Regions from separate parts of the Homo sapiens genome. Here region 2 is linked to region 1. Evidence: fine-mapped expression QTL. A gene starts in region 1. The other region holds a variant in brackets. All regions are shown on one strand. Distances are from middle to middle. Region 1 holds the start of INPP1 (inositol polyphosphate-1-phosphatase). Region 2 overlaps INPP1 (inositol polyphosphate-1-phosphatase).

What was found.
Region 2: its variant is fine-mapped to the expression of INPP1 in cerebellar hemisphere (GTEx, PIP above 0.99). The same link has a PIP of 0.9 or more in nasal epithelium, prefrontal cortex, tibial nerve and whole blood.

Annotation. Positions count from the first base shown.
Region 1 is chr2:190,339,798-190,349,267 of GRCh38, reverse strand. It overlaps INPP1 (inositol polyphosphate-1-phosphatase), which reads right to left and starts at 5,679. Exons shown (of 7, transcript NM_001128928.2): 1 at 5,307-5,679; 2 at 237-380. It overlaps LOC124906109 (serine/arginine repetitive matrix protein 1), which reads left to right and starts at 4,219. Exons shown (of 1, transcript XM_047446773.1): 1 at 4,219-9,470. The coding sequence starts at 4,952. The coding sequence ends at 5,830. RefSeq lists silencers at 4,984-5,313, 5,384-5,693.
Region 2 is chr2:190,365,888-190,375,178 of GRCh38, reverse strand. INPP1 (inositol polyphosphate-1-phosphatase) reads right to left here. Exons shown (of 7, transcript NM_001128928.2): 5 at 8,284-8,484; 6 at 5,902-6,076; 7 at 3,514-4,335. The coding sequence ends at 3,777. Among named protein-coding and RNA genes, the nearest start is that of INPP1, 27 kb to the right of the region's middle. The variant G/A (reference allele first, on the strand shown) is at 4,910.

The sequences.
Region 1 (9,470 bases):
ATGGGTTTCACCATGTTGGCAAGGCTGGTCTCAAACTCCTGATCTCAGGTGATCTGCCCACCTCGGCCTCCCAAAGTGCTGGGATTACAGGCGTGAGCCACCACACCTAGCCTTAATCTTCAATCTATTTTGAATGTAACATTTTTCATTAATTAAGGAAGATTCCAAAGTCAATTTATCTTTCCTTTAGAACTCATGCCATACTAATTGGAGACACCAACTCCTTTAACACTTACTGTTTATTGTCTGGATGGGCCTGGATGGGCCTGCAGGGTGTGCGGTAGAAAGAGCCTTGCTTGGGATACAGGAGAGCTGGTTCTTAGGCTCTGTTTTGCCAATCAGGTATATAAACTCGGCCACATGATGTAAGCTCTGAAGGACTTGTTTTCCCCATTTTGTAAACATAAAAAAGGAAAAGAAAAGCAGGGGCAGAGAGGTTGGATTGGATGATTTCTATGATCTGTTCCAGTTCAAAACTTCTCTGTTTTTTATATCTACTTCTCATATAAATGAGATTGGGAAATATTATTCAGCCTTAAAAAGAAAGGAAATTCTGACACATGCTACAACATGGATGAAACTTGAAGACATTATGGCACATGAATAAGCCAGACTGAAAAAGACAAATACTCTATGATTCCACTTGTATGAGGTACTCAGAATGTCAAATTCGTGGAGACAGAAAGTAGGATGGTGGTTACTAGGGCTGGGAAGAGAGGGTAGAGTCATTGTTTAATGGGTATAGTTTTTGTGTGGGATGATGAAAAAATTCTGGACATGAACAGTGCTGATGGTTGCATAACAAAGTGAATGTACTTAATGCCACTGAGCTGTAATTTGAAAACGGTTAAAATGGTAAATTTGATATTAGATATCTTTTACCACAATTTTTTTAAAGTTAAAAAAAAACAAAAAATTACAGGTTCAAAGAAATGCACATTTCAAAAGCTTTTGATGTTTATCATCTACATAATAAGGGCATAATAAATATTTGTTGACTTATATTTTTAAAAAACAAGTGGGGGTAGCGATAGGAAAATTAGGTTTAAAGAAGGGCACTAGGCTATTTAAGTTGATTTCATACAGCAACCACACCGGTGTTTTGTTTTGTTTTGTTTTGTTTTGTTTTTGAGACAGAGTCTCGCTCTGTTGCCCAGGCTGCAGTGCAGTGGCACGATCTTGACTCACTGCAACCTCCGCCTCCCAGGTTCAAGCGATTCTCCTGCCTTAGCCCCCCTAGTAGCTGGGATTACAGGCACGCGCTACCACACCTAGCTAATTTTTGTATTTTTAGTAGAGACCAGGTTTCGCCATGTTGGCCAGGCTGGTCTCGAACTCCTGACCTCAGGTAATCCACCCGCCTTGGCCTCCCAAAGTGCTGGGATTACAGGCGTGAGCCACCATGCCCAGCCTCCATCCTCATTTTAAGAGTTGCTGATAATGAAAAATTATGGCATCAATTTAAGTTATGCTTTCCTTAAGCAATGTTAAAAGAACAATTTTCTTTGGTCACTTGAATTTAACTCCTTTGATATGAATTATTACTCTCATTTGCATTGAGCAAAGCCTACCACTGTCACTTTAGAGGAAAAGGGCAAGTTTAAATATCTATTGGTAAAGTTGGCAAATATTTAAATTAATTTAAACATGGATAATTTACTATATTTTAAATATTTAGTTGGTTAAAAATAAAAACAAATGAGCAAATAACACACACTCTCCATCCCCCCCCAAAAAAGGAGAAAGAAAAGCAATGTAAAGAGGAAGAAGGAAAAGGAAAATAAATTCTGACATTTTCCATTATGGTAACTCATCTTGTCAAATTATTTTATAGGTATTTAATATTCTATTTCTTTAATTTTTTTATATATAACTGACCAAGTTTTAGGGCCAAATAAATTTTTTTTTCTTTTTTGAATGGGGTTGAGAGTCATTTTTTAAAAAGCTACAAATAAGGAGCCAGGTGTGGTGGCTCACGCCTGTAATCCCAGCACTTTGGGAGGCCAAGGCGGGTGGATCACGAGGTCAGGAGATCGAGACCATCCTGGCTAACACTGTGAAACCCCATCTCTACTAAAAATACAAAAAATTAGCCTGGTGTGGTAGCGGGCACCTGTAATCCCAGCTACTCGGGAGGCTGAGGCAGGAGAATCGCTTGAACCTGGGAGGCAGAGGTTGCTGTGAGCCGAGATCACACCACTGCACTCTAGCCTGGGCAACAGAGTGAGGCTCTGTCTCAAAAAAAAAAAAAAAAAAAAAAGCTACTAATAAGGTATTCAAATTTGCATGCCTGTCTTGCCTATAATTATTTAATCAGGCACATGGAAGAGGTAACAAATAAATCTATAATATGAAAGAAATTAGGCTGGGTGCAGCAGCTCACACCTGTAGTCCCAGCATTTTGGGAGGCTGAGGCAGGAGGATGTCATGAGCCCAGGAGTTTGAGACCAACCTGGGCAACATAGTGGGACCCCATCTCTACAATTTTAAAAATTAGCTGGGATGGTGGCACGTGCCTGTAGTCCCAGACACTCGGGAGGCTGGGGTGGGAGGATTCCTTGAGCCTGAGAGGTGGAGACTGCATAAGCCATGATCACACCACTGTACTCCAGCCTGGATGACAGAGTGTGACCTTTTCTCAAGAAAAAAAGAAAAAAAAGAAAGAGAAATTATTAGGTACAATATTTTGCTGTGGATTACTAGTTACAGTAATCTGCATTAGTCATCCATTAATAAAATGCTCTTATCACATTCAAGAAATTGAATTAACATTACATACCACATAAAAAAGACTAAACATGCAAAAATATGTTTGCTAAATTTGATCAGCAGAAGCTTGACCAGAAAAAAATATAAAAGTTTCAGATTTCCTAAATGAGTGGCCTCATCATATTAATAAAATCAGTTTCCATATATGAACATTTTATGTACAGGAGTCCTAATAAGTTTTATCAACTATTCATTCCAACAATAGTCATTTCCCACCTGCATTTCCCAAACTCACCTTTTTTGTTGTTGTTGACTATTTTAAAATTTTATCATTTTTGTCTATTTGAAATATCTCCTTTCTCTTAGAAATTCTGATCCAGGAAGTCTCAAGTTGCAATCTGGGAATCTTTTAAACCACTATTATACTCTACCCACTCCCCGACTTGCCTACTACCCTGAGGAATTTTACAATCAGACAAGTTTGAGAAACAGTACCCAACATCAATCACAGGAGACGGGAAGCAGAACTTTTATTTTTTTAATTTTAACTTAATTTTTATTTTTTGAGATGAAGTCTTGCTTTGTCGCCCAGGCTGGAGTGCAGTGGCGCGATCTGGGCTCACTGCAACCTCTGATTCCTAGGTTCCAGGGATCCTCCAGCCTCAGCCTCCTGAATAGCTGGGACTACAGGTGCTTGCTACCACGCCTGGCTAATTTTTGTATTTTTACTAGAGACGGGGTTTCACCATGTTGGCCAGGCTGGTCTCGAACTCCTAACCTCAAGTGATCCACCTGCCTTGGCCTCCCAAAGTGCAGGGATAACAGGCGTGAGCCACCACGCCAGCCAGAGCCTTTATTTCTAAGCTCTCAGCCAAACACATTAACATAGTTTTATTAACTTCATTACAAGATTCAAAGTATTTTAACAAGAACATTCATAAGGACTCACATCGGGAAAAAGTGCTTATATACACCATCCTCACCTTTAAAAAATGAAGATGACGTTTGTTTTCATTGATCACTTTATATAACATAATTATCTTTTAAGCAATTTCTGTATAACATGAAATAGAATGAGACATTTTCTAACTGTTATTAGAGACAGAATTAAAAAGCAAAATAAATATATAATAACCTTTATAACTTTTGTCTCACAGGCCTTCTATGTCAAACAAGAAATTATCTTTTCATTTTTTTCAGGACTATAACAAGGAAAGCTATAATTTAAATCTATAATAAGGTATATCATTTTAAAGGGCATTAGTCAAAGCTGCAATTTCCAAGCAAGCGGTGGTTTAGTCCAAAAGCTTGAAAAGTGGTAGCTTATTCTACACAAAAAGTACAGTGTAACTCTATGTATTTGACATAATTCTCTTCATGACTAAGCTGACTTCAAAAGTAGTATAAAAATCCATAAAAACTTAAAAATAAAGTAGGCTCTACATAAGAATGGAAACAAATATCTGTATTGAAAAAATGAATTCTTCCATTGCCTTTATTTTTTCCCTTATGTTCTCTATTTTAAAAGGTAAGAATGAGATCACTTAGCTAATTCACCAATCAAGAGTAGTTCAGTGGATTACTTTCATCCTTATACTATTATCAAGTTGAGCAGGGCTGATCCTTATCAACTTTTCTGGCTTCAAAGCTAGGAATCAGTGTAAAAGGGCTAAAAAATCTTTTACTCAACAGATGGGATCCACTTAAGTGGTCTGTCCATACTTTTAACCCACTGTTCTTTTGAAGTGAACACCATCATACAGTGGGCAAACTTCTGCTTATTCAACACTTTAAAAATACCTTTAAAATGAGAAATCTCCAAAAAACAAGCCGTGGTTTCTTATAAGTGTTTTTCACAGATGTACTAAAGTAAGCGTTTCCTTTCACACTCTTTGCGCCTAACCGTCTACATGATAGGGCCAAACCCAGGTTAAATATTTTTTTCCAGCTACCACTCTGGACACACCAACTAATTATGCACACCTCACAAAACCACCTTTCAAAATGCAGAGAGAATTAACAGCAAGGAAGTAAAGATTTTTCTAAATATAGTCCCATCATATTTATTTCACACTCATCAAGTAGGTCACTGGAGGTAGCTGGCAGCTAGGGACACTCAGATGCATCTCTCAAAGCCAAGGCTGAGACCAAGGGGTCACTGACAGCTGCGCCATCTACCTGTTGCAGCTGGGCCACTGCTCTGGACAACTGTCAGATCAGCTTCTTCGTCCTACAAATACTAATGACTGGATTTTTAAAATCGTTGTTTGCCACCCTTTCTTCCCGCCCCCCAACCCCATCGGGCCGCTCGGGCAGGGCCAAGGGCGCCGCGGGACTCACGAGCTCCCCTCCGCGCTGGCTGCAGCGGCGATGCCGGGCATGCCTGGCCGGGCCCGGCCGGGGGCGGCCTCGCTGCCGGGGCAGGGACCTCGCAGGCCGGCGCGCAGAGGCGAGGAACCCTCCCGGCGCCATCGACTCACCTACCCGCGGAGAGGCGACGGCGCGCGCCGCTCACCAGCCCGGGCCCCAGATCCAAGGAGGAGGGGCAGCGGCGCGGGGACCCTGTGGTGGGTGTCGTAAGGAGGAAAACGTGTTACCTAAGCCGGGGATGAGGACAGAGCAGGAGGCAGCAGCCTTTCCCTCGAGAAACGGAAGCGGCGGGGAGCAGGAGGAGGAGGAGGCGCGGCCCGGGCGCGAGGTTAGGCGAGGGGCGCTGGGCGTGCGGCCGCAGGCGCGGCCAGAGGACGAGGGTTGGGGAGGACGGCGGAGGTCACGCGAGCGAAGGCGAAGCCCCGGCGACGCACGGCCCCGCTTGGCTCGGCACCGGATCCGAGCTTGGCCTCAGCCAGGCCGCCGCCCCCGGCTTTCCCGCGGGACCGCGGCGTGGAAACGCGCGCTGCCGCCTCGGGGCTCCCGGGACGCGCGGGCCCCCCACGCCTGCCCGAGCCGGGCGTCCGCGACGTCACAAGTGGAGCGCGATGATTCAGAGGGAGGGCCAGGAAGGGAAGGGCTCTGGGGTCAGCTTGGCCACGGCTGCTGTTTCCTTGTCGCCGCCCACGAATTCACTTTTAAATCTTCCTCCTCCATTCATCTGTACTCTCATAGGGGACTGCGGGTTTGACAGATGGGTTGGCAGCTGTGAAGATGGACTTCCTGCCAGTGGTATCCGGGTCCCACTGTTCTAATGGAAATGTCAGGTGTACTGGATGTTCCTCAAGACACAGCAGTGTCTCTGGGCCTTGCCTCTTAAGGAGTGGGCCTCGGGCCACCTGGACAGGAAGCGCATCAAGGGTGGGGAACTTATCTCTCTCCAGCCTTTGGTGCTGTGATACTCAGTGTACCTTAAGGATGGTTTGGGTTGAACCTAGGTAGGAATGGGTGTTGGTGGGCGGGGTGGGGGTGGGGGGAATAGAAACCTTAAAAGGGCAACACAAAGTTTTGAATAGAAGAGGCCAAGCAGCCTCGCCCAGAAGCTGATGTTTGTGAATGTACTGGGCCTTCTAAAGCGGCGCTTCACACACCTTTTCACTTCTTGGCACAGGTAGGAAAGGATGATATTACAAGGGTCAAAATGGGGGTAAACAGAAGAGGCTGCTCCTGCAGAAGGCTTCCTGCAGAAGCCCTTGCACTTGGAGGGCTGGGAAGACCCATGCTGTATCTGCATCCCTGTCATTCGTTTCACGGCATCCAGTTGGGAAGCTCTGCTTAAAGCTTTGTCTGGCACGTTTTCTTAGCTACATTTTTCCACTCCAGCTGAGACTGCCTCACTGAGTTGTCAACACTTGGTCTTCTTCAGCAGTGAGGAACCAACAAGACAGGAGGCTGGGTCAATACTCAACTTGGCAAACTCCAGGAAATGGTGCTTAAAACGTTTGGCTTCTTGAATGGAATTCATGGTACTGCTCCCAGCCTGCACCTGGGTTCTCCAACTTGAGACAATTTCTCCCCGCATCCCCCCACCCTTCCCTGGCTTTCACTCACTAGCAAGTGGGCTGCTTCTACTTTCTTTCTCACATTCATTTCTTAGGTCCATTCTCAGAGCGGTTAGGATTACTGTTTAATTAGCCTCATAATCATATCTATGATGGCAAAATCAAGAAACAATTTAAACATGATTCTTAAAAGTAAGGAGATAAATACCAGAGACATAGAAGGTGAAAGAATTTGCCTCTAGGAAGCAGGAATTTAAATTTGGGGAAGACAGGGTGGAGCAAGGGATATAAATCTAGTCCATTTTTCTTTTCTTTTCTTTTCTTTTTTTTTTATTTTTAAGATAGAGTCTCACTCTGTCGCCCAGGCTGGAGTGCAGTGGCATGATCTTGGCTCACTGCAACCTCTGCCTCCTTCGTTCAAGCGATTCTCCCACCTCAGCCTCCCTAGTAACTGGGATTACAAGTGACTGCCACTATGCCCAGCTAATTTTGTATTTTTAGTAGAGACGAGGTTTCACCATGTTGGCCAGGCTGGTCTCGAACTCCTGACCTCAGGGGATCCGCCCAGCTCAGCCTCCCAAAGTGCTAGGATTCCAGGCGTGAGCCACTGCACCTGGCGGAATCTAGTCCATTTTCCACTTTGCTACCACACATCTGCAGGGTTTCTTGCTTGCTTAAAAGCTTTCATTGGCTCCCAATCTCTGATAATATCAAGAGCAAGTTCCTGAACAACTCATTCAAGACCCATCACCCCTCGCATCTGTCAACTCTGCCCCTTGAATATTACACCTCATTTTACTACACCACATCTAGTTCCCTGAATATGCAAACAGATTTCATACATTTGCACCTTTATACATGTTATTGCTTTTGCCTGGGAGAGTATTCTCTTGCTGCTATAATAATAGCTAATGACACTGTGCTAAGTACTTTCTGTGATTTATAACTGTTAATTCTTACATCAACCCTATGGTAAATGTTACTGTTATCTCCATTTTATAAACAAGAAAACTAAGACTTAAAGAGTTTAAGTGATTTGCAGAAATATGTAGTATTTGGTGAGGCTAAATTTGAACCCAGCAATCTGACTCCAGGACTAACATAATATTACCTATTCATCCTTCTAAAATGTTTCCCAGACACTAAATTTGAACAGGATTAAAAGATTTAAATGTTTTTAAGTCTTAAAAGGGCAAGGAGAAAATACAAGTGAATTGCTTTTAATCTCAAACTAAGCATGAAACAACGGCTGAAATTACAAAGGAAAAGTGACAGATCTGACTGTTGAACTTTTAACTTCTTTTATCCAAAAAAAAACCCCATAGAATAAAATTTAAAAACAAGTAAAAATTACAAAAAATTTGCAATATACATGACAGATAAGCATAACATTAAAGAGAACTTAGAAAGAAAAAATAGCCTACTAAAAATGAGCAAAATGCAAATTCGTCATCATGAGAGAAAAATGTAAATGGCCAAACATTTTTAAGAGAAGTAAAAACTTAAAACGATAATGCACCATCAAATTGAGAATAAAATAATACTCAGAGCTAGTAATTTGGGCCAGTGACCCTTGGAGTAGGATGTATAGCAACTAAAGAAACTCATACATTACTGAGAAGGGTGTAAATTGGCTCAACGATTCTGGAGAGCAATTTGACAGAATGTAGTGAAAGCGTCAAAAATGTTCACACACTTTGACTTAAAAATTACATTCCTGGAAATTTATAATACAAACATTTTCTATAAAAGGTCAGATGGCAAATACTTTGGGCTTTGAAGGCCACATATGTCTCTGTGGCTTTTCTTTTGTGTGTGTGTTTAAAAAAAAAAAAAACTGCCCCCCCTCCCCCCACCCTTGTTAGGCCATTCTTGCATTACTATAAAGAAATACCTGAGGCTGGTTAATTTATATGAAAAGAGGTTTAACTGGCTCATGGTTCTGCAGGCTGTACAGGAAGCATAATGCCATCTGCTTCTGGGGGGGCCTCAGGAAGCTTCCAATCATGCTGGAAGGTGATGGGGAGCAGATGTCTCACATGGTGAGAACGGGAGCAAGAAGGAGTTGGGGGGGAGGAGCCACATAAACAATGAGATCCCTGTGAGCTCAGAGTGAGAGCACACTTATCACCAAGGAGATGGCCCAAGCTATTCATGAGGGATCCGCCCCTATGATCCAAACACCTCCCACCAGGCTCCACCTCCAACACTGGAGATTATATCTCAACATGAAATTTGAATGGGACATCCAAACTGTATCACCCCCAAAATGTAAAGTCTCATCACAGTACATTTGGTAATGGCCAAAAGAGAAACCAAACTAAATGTCCGAGAATAAAAATTAGTTACAACTAGATACACGGAGGCAAGTTTTTAAAAAGTGTTAAAATTTTAAAATGTTGCAGAATGGTATCTATTGGATAAAATAGTATTTATGATTTATTAAGTGGAAAATACAGTTTACAAAATAATATGGTGTGATCCCGAAAACAACATAATCATGTGTGTATAAATGCATAGAAAAAAATCTGGAAAGATATAAACAGATATTTATAGTGGTCTAGGGCAGGGGATGGAATTGTAGATATTTGCTTTTTGTTTTATGTATATGTTTCCCATAATGAAATGTATTGTTTATATAATTAAAAAATATACGAAACTTTGCTTGGGGGACAACAAAGCACCTCATTTGTTAATTTGGGAAAATCTTTTATTACAATCTCTGTAAGGAGTTGGTTGCTCTCTCTTCTGTACTCCCTGATTACATAATGCTCTTCTGAGCACTTTTATTTAATAGCAGAATGGTTGATATCATTATTTAGTTAAGGT
Region 2 (9,291 bases), 26 kb before region 1:
TGGTAGTTCTACTTTTAGTTTTTTGAGAAATCTCCATACTCTTTTCCATGGAGGTTGTACTAATTAATATTCCCATCATCAGTGTATAGGCATCTCTTTTTCTCCACATCCTTGCCAACATCAGTTTTTGTTTTTTTTACTTTTTAATAATGGCCATTCTGACTGGTGTAAGATGGTATTTTATTGTGCTTTGGAGAATTTTGAACAGAAGAGGGACATGATCTGATCTGTGTTTGAAAAAGATCACTCTGGCTTCTGTCTTGAGAATGAACAGTATGGAGGCAAGTTAGAAGTTTATTGCAATAATCCAGGTGATGCATAAAAAGGCATGGAGCAGGGTGGGGTATAGGACAGTGATGTGGAATAGCTGAATTCTGGATATATTTTTGAAAGTGGAGACCAGAGAGTTTCCTGAGTGATTGCATATAGGTTGTGAGAGCAAGAAAGGAAGGGATGTTGACTTGGATTCCCAAAGACTGCTCTTCTTGATGTGCAGTTGAGGCTCTCTTTGTACTACTCTGTGTCTAAGTGACCTGGCAGACTAATCTCTCTATCCATCCTCCTGTAAAACACAGACTGATGCAAAAGACACTTGACTTTCATGGCCAAGAGGCTCCTCTGTAGAACACCCCTCCATCACTACCTCCAACTCCTGTTCCCATCAGATAAATTGCCTGCATACCAAGAATTGTTGACCGGGTGCAGTGGCAGCACTTTGGGAGGCCAAGGCGGGTGAATCACGAGGTCAGGAGTTGGAGACCAGCCTGGCCAACGTGGTGAATCCCTGTCTCTACTAAAAATACAAAAAATTAGCTGGGCATAGTGGCAGGCATCTGTAATCCCAGTTACTAGGGAGGCTGAGGCAGGAGAATTGCTTGAACCCGGGAGGTGCAGGTTGCAGTGAGCCAAAATCACACCACTGCACTCCAGCCCAGGTGACAGAGTGAGACTCCATCTCAAAAAAAAAAAAAAATTGTTTACTTCTTTCCACAACTCTATATTCCAATTTTATTTCTAATAATTAAATTAATATAACGTAAAGTAATGGAGTGTGGGTTTGAAAACAAAGAATTGGAGGCTTTAGTAAGTGTGGGTAAAGGTGAACCAAAAAATTAGTTGGTAAGAAAACTGTGGCCAGGCGCAGTGGCTCATGCCTGTAATCCCAGCACTTTGGGAGGCCAAGGTGGATGGATCACCTGAGGTCAGGAGTTCGAGACCAGCCTGGCCAACATGGCGAAACACTGTCTCTACTAAAAATACAAAAATTAGCCGGGCATGATGGTAAGTGCCTGTAATCTCAGCTACTCAGGAGAGTAGCTGAGATTTATGCTCAGCTACTGAGGCAGGAGAATCACTTGAACCTGGGAGGCAGAGGTTGCAGTGAGCCAAGATCGTGCCATTGCACTCAAGCCTGGGTGACAGAGCAAGACTCTGTCTCAAAAACAAACACCACTGTAAAAATGGAATATTTTTAAGTTCTTCCTCTACAGAAAATAAAACTAGAAATCATAGTCACCTGGTTGTGGCTTCTGCAAGAAAAACAATGCAGACCCATCAGAGGCACATGCTTAAAGAAAGGGCTTTGGCTTTTCTGCAAAGATTGATGGTGAATAATATACATTATAGATGTTCACAGAATATAATGATTCCCTCTTCCATCCAGCTTTTGACCCCTCCAATTGAGAAATTTGAGCCCTAGGAGTTCGAGACCAGCCTGGGAAGCATGGCAAAACCCCATCTCTACTAAAACACAAAAATTAGTCAGGCATGGTGGCATGCACCTATAGTCCCAGCTACTTAGGAGGCTGAGGTGGGAGGATCGCTTGAGCCCAGGAGGTTGGGGCTGCAGTGAGCCATGATCATTCCACTGCACTCCAGCCTGGTGACAGAGTGAGACCCTATCTCAAAAAAAAAAACAAAACAAAAAAAAAAAAAAAAAAAAAAAACGAAAAGAAATCAGTATGTTAAAGAGATACCTCCACTCCCATGCTCATTTTGATATTATTGACAATAGCCAAGATATGAAATCAACCAAGATATGAATGAATGGGTAAAGAAAATGTGGTATTAATATGTATACACAATGGATACTATTCTGCCATAAAAAAAGAAATCTTGTCATTTGGATGACCCTGAAGGACATTGTTAAGTAAAATAAGCCAGGCACAGAAAGACAAATACCACACGGCCTCACTTACACATGGAAACTGAAAAAGTCAAACTCACAGAAGCAGAGAGTAGAATGGTGGTTATCAGGGGCTGGAGTGTTTGGGAGATGTTGGTCAAAGGATAGAAAATCCTAGTTAACAGGAAGAATAAGTTCAAAAGATCCTATGACGTGGTGACTATAGTTAATAACAACGTATTGTTTACCTGAAAATTGCTAACAGATTTTAAGTGTTCTCACTACACACACACACAAAAAAATGTAAGGTAATGTTAGTTTGATTTAGCCCTTCTGCAATATATACATATGTCAAAGCATCATATCATATGACATAAACATAATTTGTCAAAAATTTTTAAGTGTAAGGACATTAGAAAATAAGATTGTTATTTTCATGCATTTGTAAATAGAGGATCTGTAGAAACATCCTTTGGCCCCCAGGGGGCGTAGGGCAGAATGAAGTCAGAGCCGAGGATTTGATCCCTGCAGTTGGCACTCTCTGGTTACCAGGCCTGCCACAGAGAATACAGAAAAAGTACTTTATGTCCACTTCAGAGAACATTCACTGTGGGATGCTGGTACACAAGGGTTGTATATATCTAAAGTCCACCTCTGGTTTTTGGTAAAGTGTAGTAAATATGCAAAAATTGCAGAAACCTCTACTCATTGTACTCTTTTGCTTCTGTGTGTGTATATGTGTCTTTCTGTTTGTCTGTGTCTTTCACTGTGTATGTGTGTGTGTGTGTGTGTGTGTGTGTGTGTGTGTGTGTGTATCCCTGTCTCTCCCTGTCTCTGCAAAGGGGGAGCCCACAGTGTTCCAGGCTTTACTTCCTATAAGAAATACAAGAATACTGTTAAAAGTACATAAACTTGGCTAACTTACGCAGATTAAGTTCTAAATGTTCTGCCAACAGGCTAAAATTGCAGATTTTTCCCTTCGAGAGGAAACAAAACTCAAGCAAACCCCTCCTGTATTCTCCCTTATATTTCAGAGAAATTTCTATCGCTTAGATGTTTAGCATAGTTTTACTAATTTAACAGGATTTTTTCCTCGTTCATCAATTTTTTTTTTTTTTTGAGACAGTCTCGCTTTGTCACCAGGCTGGAGTGTAGTGGCACAATCTCGGCTCACTGCAACCTATGCCTCCCGGGTTCAAGCGATTCTCCTGCCTCAGCCTCCTGAGTAGCTGGGACTACAGGCACACACCACCAAGCCCAGCTAATTTTTATATTTTTAGTAGAGATGGGGTTTCACCATGTTGGCCAGGATGGTCTTGATTTCTTGACCTCGTGATCCGCCCGTCTTGGCCTCCCCAAGTCCCGGGATTACAGGCATGAGCCACTGCTCCTGGTCAATATTTTATTGAAATGTTTCAAGCAGCACTAACAGCACAATATTCACTGTAAGAATTTCATACACCAATATAATTGCTGCATGAATGTCATTTATTGAAATTAACATTATTATGAATACATAATGGAAAAATACTCCTCAAAAGAGGAAGGTGAATGTTAACCAGCAACAGGACAAAGCCATCCTCAAAAGACAGAGATAACCGAAACAGTTTCACAGTTCAGTTTATACAGGTACACCGGGGTTAGAGTTCCTCTAGGTATGCGTCTCTGCAGGTGCCAGGTTTTGGACCAGGAGGCTCAGGAATGTCTCCAGCCGCTTCCTGGATCTGTATGCAATGAGTCCTCCCTTGTTGGCCCACCGATCCACCCCAGCAGCACCCTCATTTTCCACGTGGTACACCAACTGTGGCAAATCAAGCCCTGTTTCTGGATTTCTTTCTAAGCATTCTTTCAAGTCTACTATTCCCCCACCCATGGCCCTCAGTATGGCATGAGCAGCACAAGAGTCCCATTTGAATGTGGTATCTTCTGAAAAGATGTAAATGTCAACGAGGCCTTGGACAACACATAGGCTCTTATAACCAGCCCCAGCTGCCCCAAATATGCGATCTCCACACACACGTGACAATGCAGCTTTGATAGTCTCCTTTTCACTTGTACTAATTACGGCTGAAAAACTGGGGGAGAATGCTGCCTCAGAGCCGGTGTTTCCAGTGTGTGTTTCACTGCCGTTTCTTCTAGAGATGGTGAGCTGTAGTGAATGCATGTTGGTCCCCATGTAAGAAAGGCCCCAATAGCACTGTCCTTTCCACCTGTAGAAGAAAAATTTCAATTGGTGATGATTATCACATTTGTTTTTCATTACTCATGTCACTTTCAAACTTAATGATACGAAGAAATACACAATTCATCATAACATGGTGAATCTTAACACCTTTAAGTCTAGGAATAGATATCAGGTAGCTAGTTTATTTCAGAAAGTTACTTATATGCATGCAGCTGCCTGAGTTGTTGCAATTAGAAATGCTTTCAATTTTATGGCATTATCACATCAATCTAGGACAACACTAAAACATTTATGGGGTTTCCAGCTTCCAGAACCATTGCAAAATTTCATTACAACTTTTAGTATTTAAAGTTTAGTAGGGAAAAAGGAATAGAAAAGTGATATCTCTTTTTGATCTGCAAATATTCTACAATCCCTATAACAAGTTTTTCTTTATTTGGTAACTCCTTTTCATTCTCTTATTCACTAGTTTCACGTTGGCTTCCAACACAAAGAAAGATGGACTCAATGTTATTAGTTTTGGCAACCACAATAATTATAGCACCTTCCCTTTATCAATGCTTAACTTACTGTCTATGTTGTTACATATTTACAGATAA[G/A]GAAACAGGCTTAGAGAAAGTAAGTAGCTTGCTGAGGCCCACTCAGCTAGAAAGTGGTAGAATCTGCATTCAAACCCACAAAGTCTCACTCTGAATCTGTGCCATAAACTATTTTGTTGACCACCTCCATTTCTAGGCCATGATTATGTCTGCATATTGTTCCAATTCTTTTTAATTTCTTATTAACCTTTTAAAGATAGCAGAAACCTATTTTTAGTTTGGAAGATGGTGGGGGTAGGGGGAAAATATTAAAACTTAAGAGGTATAAACTTATGACTATTAAAGAGCAAATGATTGTTACTTGAAGCAGCTCAGGTTCAATAAAAATATGTAATCCTATATAAGTGAAAAAATATGACCTATTTCAATAAAAAGCTGAACTGCTTGTTCCACCTGGACTTTGCCATGCCCTGGAGTCAACCCCAAAGCACAGGCCATGGATCAGAGGCAGCTGAGTCCTGGCCACTTTCTACGCTCTGTTTAAGAGTGCATGGAAGAGTGGAAGGGAGGAGGCAGAAAGGGAGTGTGAGTTAGGTTCTGATCCTGGCCATGCCTACCAATCTTTTCATTGGATAATTTTCACATTTTGTTTTGAACTTCTAAAATTATACCAAAGTTCAACTGGCTATACAGCGATGGCAGCTGTCTTATTCCCAATGTATTGGAAGGCAGTGTTACCACCACTCTACTTATCTGGTTTTGAGTGGATTCTAGAAACAGGGAACAGGATTACTATATTCCAAATGTAAAACTATGATTTCTACAGGATAGTATTAATTTTAAAATTTCTACCAGCATGCACTTGGCCTGAAATAAAATTACGCAAATCCAAGATTGAAAATAGAACTTTAATTCAAATACGCAGACTTTCAATGGCAACACTCCCATGTGTTAAGTCATGGGAATGTCATATAGTGATAATCCTAACAACAAGCAAAGCTGAGGTCGTAAGTTCTAACAACCATAATATACCAAAAATATTTGCCTTTTACCTGAGGGTGTTTGGATCTCGTGACACAAAAGGTTGATTGATGACTCCCATCAGGGGAACCCCTGTCTGTATGTCATAGACACCAATTAAAATGGTGACACACTGAAGTCCACAGGGGAAGATTCCCTGGTTGGATTTAATGTCAGCAGAACCTTTTATATACTGATAAGTTGAATCTGAAAAAGGAAACAAATGTGTTTGGATTCAGGTAAAGATCATTTAGAAGACTCTGTTCCATATGACTTCTCTCTTCTACTGATTTGGTAACCAATAATTTTTTACCTTTGGATGTCACTGTATTGAATTGTTATTTGGCCTCTTGTACTTTACTTTTAAATTGCTTGTGTTTCATTTTCCTGACTGTGAGAACTCTTGAAGGGAGAGGATGTGTCTATAGTTCCTGTGGCATAGCAATTTGTATATAACAGGCATTCAAATATTTGTTACTTATCAAAAGCATTGAAAAAGTAATAACCAGAATAATTGGTGGGATTATTTTAGAAATACTACTAATCAGAGGACTAGTACAATGTGAGATGGAAAAGCCTCCTTCCAATGGGTGAAAAAAAAAGACCTACTATTTGATAGCACAATAGGGTAACTATAATCAATAAGAACTTAACTGTACATTTTAAAATAAAGAGTGTAACTAGATTGTTTATTACTCAAAGGATAAATGCTCAAAGGGATGGATACCCCATTCTCTATGATGTGCTTATCTCACATTGTGTGCCTGTGTCAAAACATCTCATCTACCCCATAAATATATACACCTATTATGTACCCACAAACATTTTAAAAAGGAAAAGAAAAAAAGAAAAGCCCCCCTCCTGTAATAGGTCACAGGTAATATTATCTTTTACTATTATTATTTGGTCCCTCAAGTTAGAAGGAAGAAAGAGACAATGATGGTGGCACCAAAAAAAGAAATTAACGGAGCTCCTATGAAACAGAGGCAGAGAAACTAGGTTTCCCCTTAAGAGATGTACATGCCAGCAGCTGACTGCTGACGTCTAGGGAGTCAACACACGGCTAAGGATGTGCCTGGCAAAAGACTCAAAGAGCTCAAAAACAGAATCAATTCAGGGTGGAACCAAGAAACAGGAGATCTCTGTCCCTCAGAAACTATAACTGATGCCAATTTACCCTTAAATGATCAAAGATTTGGGGAAAGGTTTTTAGTTTCCATATATCATCCACTGGCTGAATGTGATATAATTATCTGAAGATTAAACCCATTTCAGTATCATCCTGTGAATGCACTTGTAGGATGGGAAGGGCCCAGAGAGGAGTTTGCCTGGTCCTTGAATGGTCCCATTGTGTTGGGTGGGGAAGAAAAAAAAGGAAGGGGGAGCTTATTAAAATTATTACCTAGAACTTGTATTAATAGCATCATTGAAGATAAAGGCTGGCTGGGCATGGTAGGTCATGCCTGTAATCATCCTAGCACTTTAGGAGGCCAAGGCAGGCAGATCGCTTGAACCCAGGAGTTCGAGACCAGCCTGGGAAACATGGTAAAAACCCCTTCTCTAAAAACAATATAAAAAATTAGCCTAGTGAGGTGGCATGCAACTCTGCCACCTACTTGGGTCCCAGCTACTTGGGAAGCTGAGATAGGAGGATTGCTTGAGCTCAGGAGGACAAGGCTGCAGTGAGTGAGTTCTGACTGTGCCACTGCACTCCAGCCTGTGTGCAACACGAGACTCTGTCTCAAAAAAAAGGGTTACATTTTCAAAACAATGGATTATACATTATGGTTCTATCACAATCATGACCAAAAAAAATGTAGAGCTCATGCAGGGCTCACAAACTGCTCATGCGTCACATTCAGCTTTTTGCTTGACCTGTACTGTGTTTTTTTGATTGTTTCCTTCTTTAACTGAATTAGTAGCTAACGGTTAGAAATTGGGATATATCGCTGAAAACCTTGGATTTTGGTTTCTCTTTAAAAATCTGAAGAGCTGGCCTGTACTCCCATATGGTAACAATCTGCTAAAGCTAAGTGCTCTTTAAATGGTATGTGTGCTCAATTGGTCATAACTGCTCTCACTTCATTCTCTCATTTACTTACCAGTCTGGTCCCTGAAGTCTTTTGAAGAGAAGTTAATTCATCTTTGCATGTGTGCCTGTATGTATGTGTGTGTATATACACACACCTGTTATAGATATGTATATATATACACACGGCTATAATATATATGTATATATACAGAACACATGACACATACACCTCAACTCTCATTGTTTTAAAACTTTAAAATTTTAAAAACTTCTAGCAGAGTTAAACTACACTCAATAATTTTTATTTTTCCAACACCCATCCCCAACCCCACCACCAAAAAAAAGATTGCAAATAAGAACAAACATACTTTCCTATACTTACCTATGGGGTCCACCCAAATTCCCAAAATGTCCTGTGGAACATTGATCTCTGTGGAATCCAGAGTTGGGTCAGTAAAGGCAACATCCTGATGAACAACCCTGGCTAATGCTTCAGATGCCACCTTGTTACCATTGAGGACTTTGCTAAGAAGCTCTGCTGTTTCCTCCTCTGTTGAACACAACCTCAAGGTAATCTTTTCCCCTAGGGTAAAGCCACACGATAAGCCATTACATTTCAAGAGTTTCAGTGGAGAAAGAACAGAGAGAGAGAGCTAAAGAGTGAGAGAGACAGAGAGAGCGAGAGAGAGAGACAGAGAGAGAGCGAGAGACACAGAGAGCGAGACAGAGCGAAAGAGCGAGAGAGACAGAGCAAGAGAGTGAGAGAGAGACACACAGAGAGAGCGAGAGACACAGCAAAAGAGCGAGAGACAGAGAGAGCAAGACAGAGAGAGTGAGACAGAGTGAGACAGAGTGAGACAGAGTGAGAGCAAGAGAGACAGACAGGGAGAGTGAAAGAGACAGAGCAAAAGAGTGAGACAGAGCAAGCAAGAGAGAGACAGAGCGAGAGAGTGAGACAGAGAGAGTGAGACAGAGCGAGAGAGACAGAGAGCGAGAGAGAGACAGGAAGAGTGAAAGAGACAGAGGGAAAGAGTGAGACAGAGAGCAAGCAAGAGAGAGACAGAGCGAGAGAGCGAGACAGAGCAAGAGACAGAGAGCAAGAGACAAAGAGCGAGAGAGACAGCGAAAGAGCGAGAGAGAGCAAGAGAGACAGAGCGAGACAGAGAGCGAGAGATTCAGGGAGAGACTGAGAGAGACAGAGTGAAAGAGACAGAGAGACAGAGAGAGCAAAAGAGTGAGACAGAGAGCGAGCGAGAGAGAGCGAGACAGAGCGAGAGAGCGAGAGAGAGCGAGACAGAGCGAGAGAGCGAGAGAGAGCAAAAGAGTGAGACAGACAGTGAGCGAGAGACAGTGAGACAGAGCAAGAGAGCGAGACAGAGCAAGAGACACA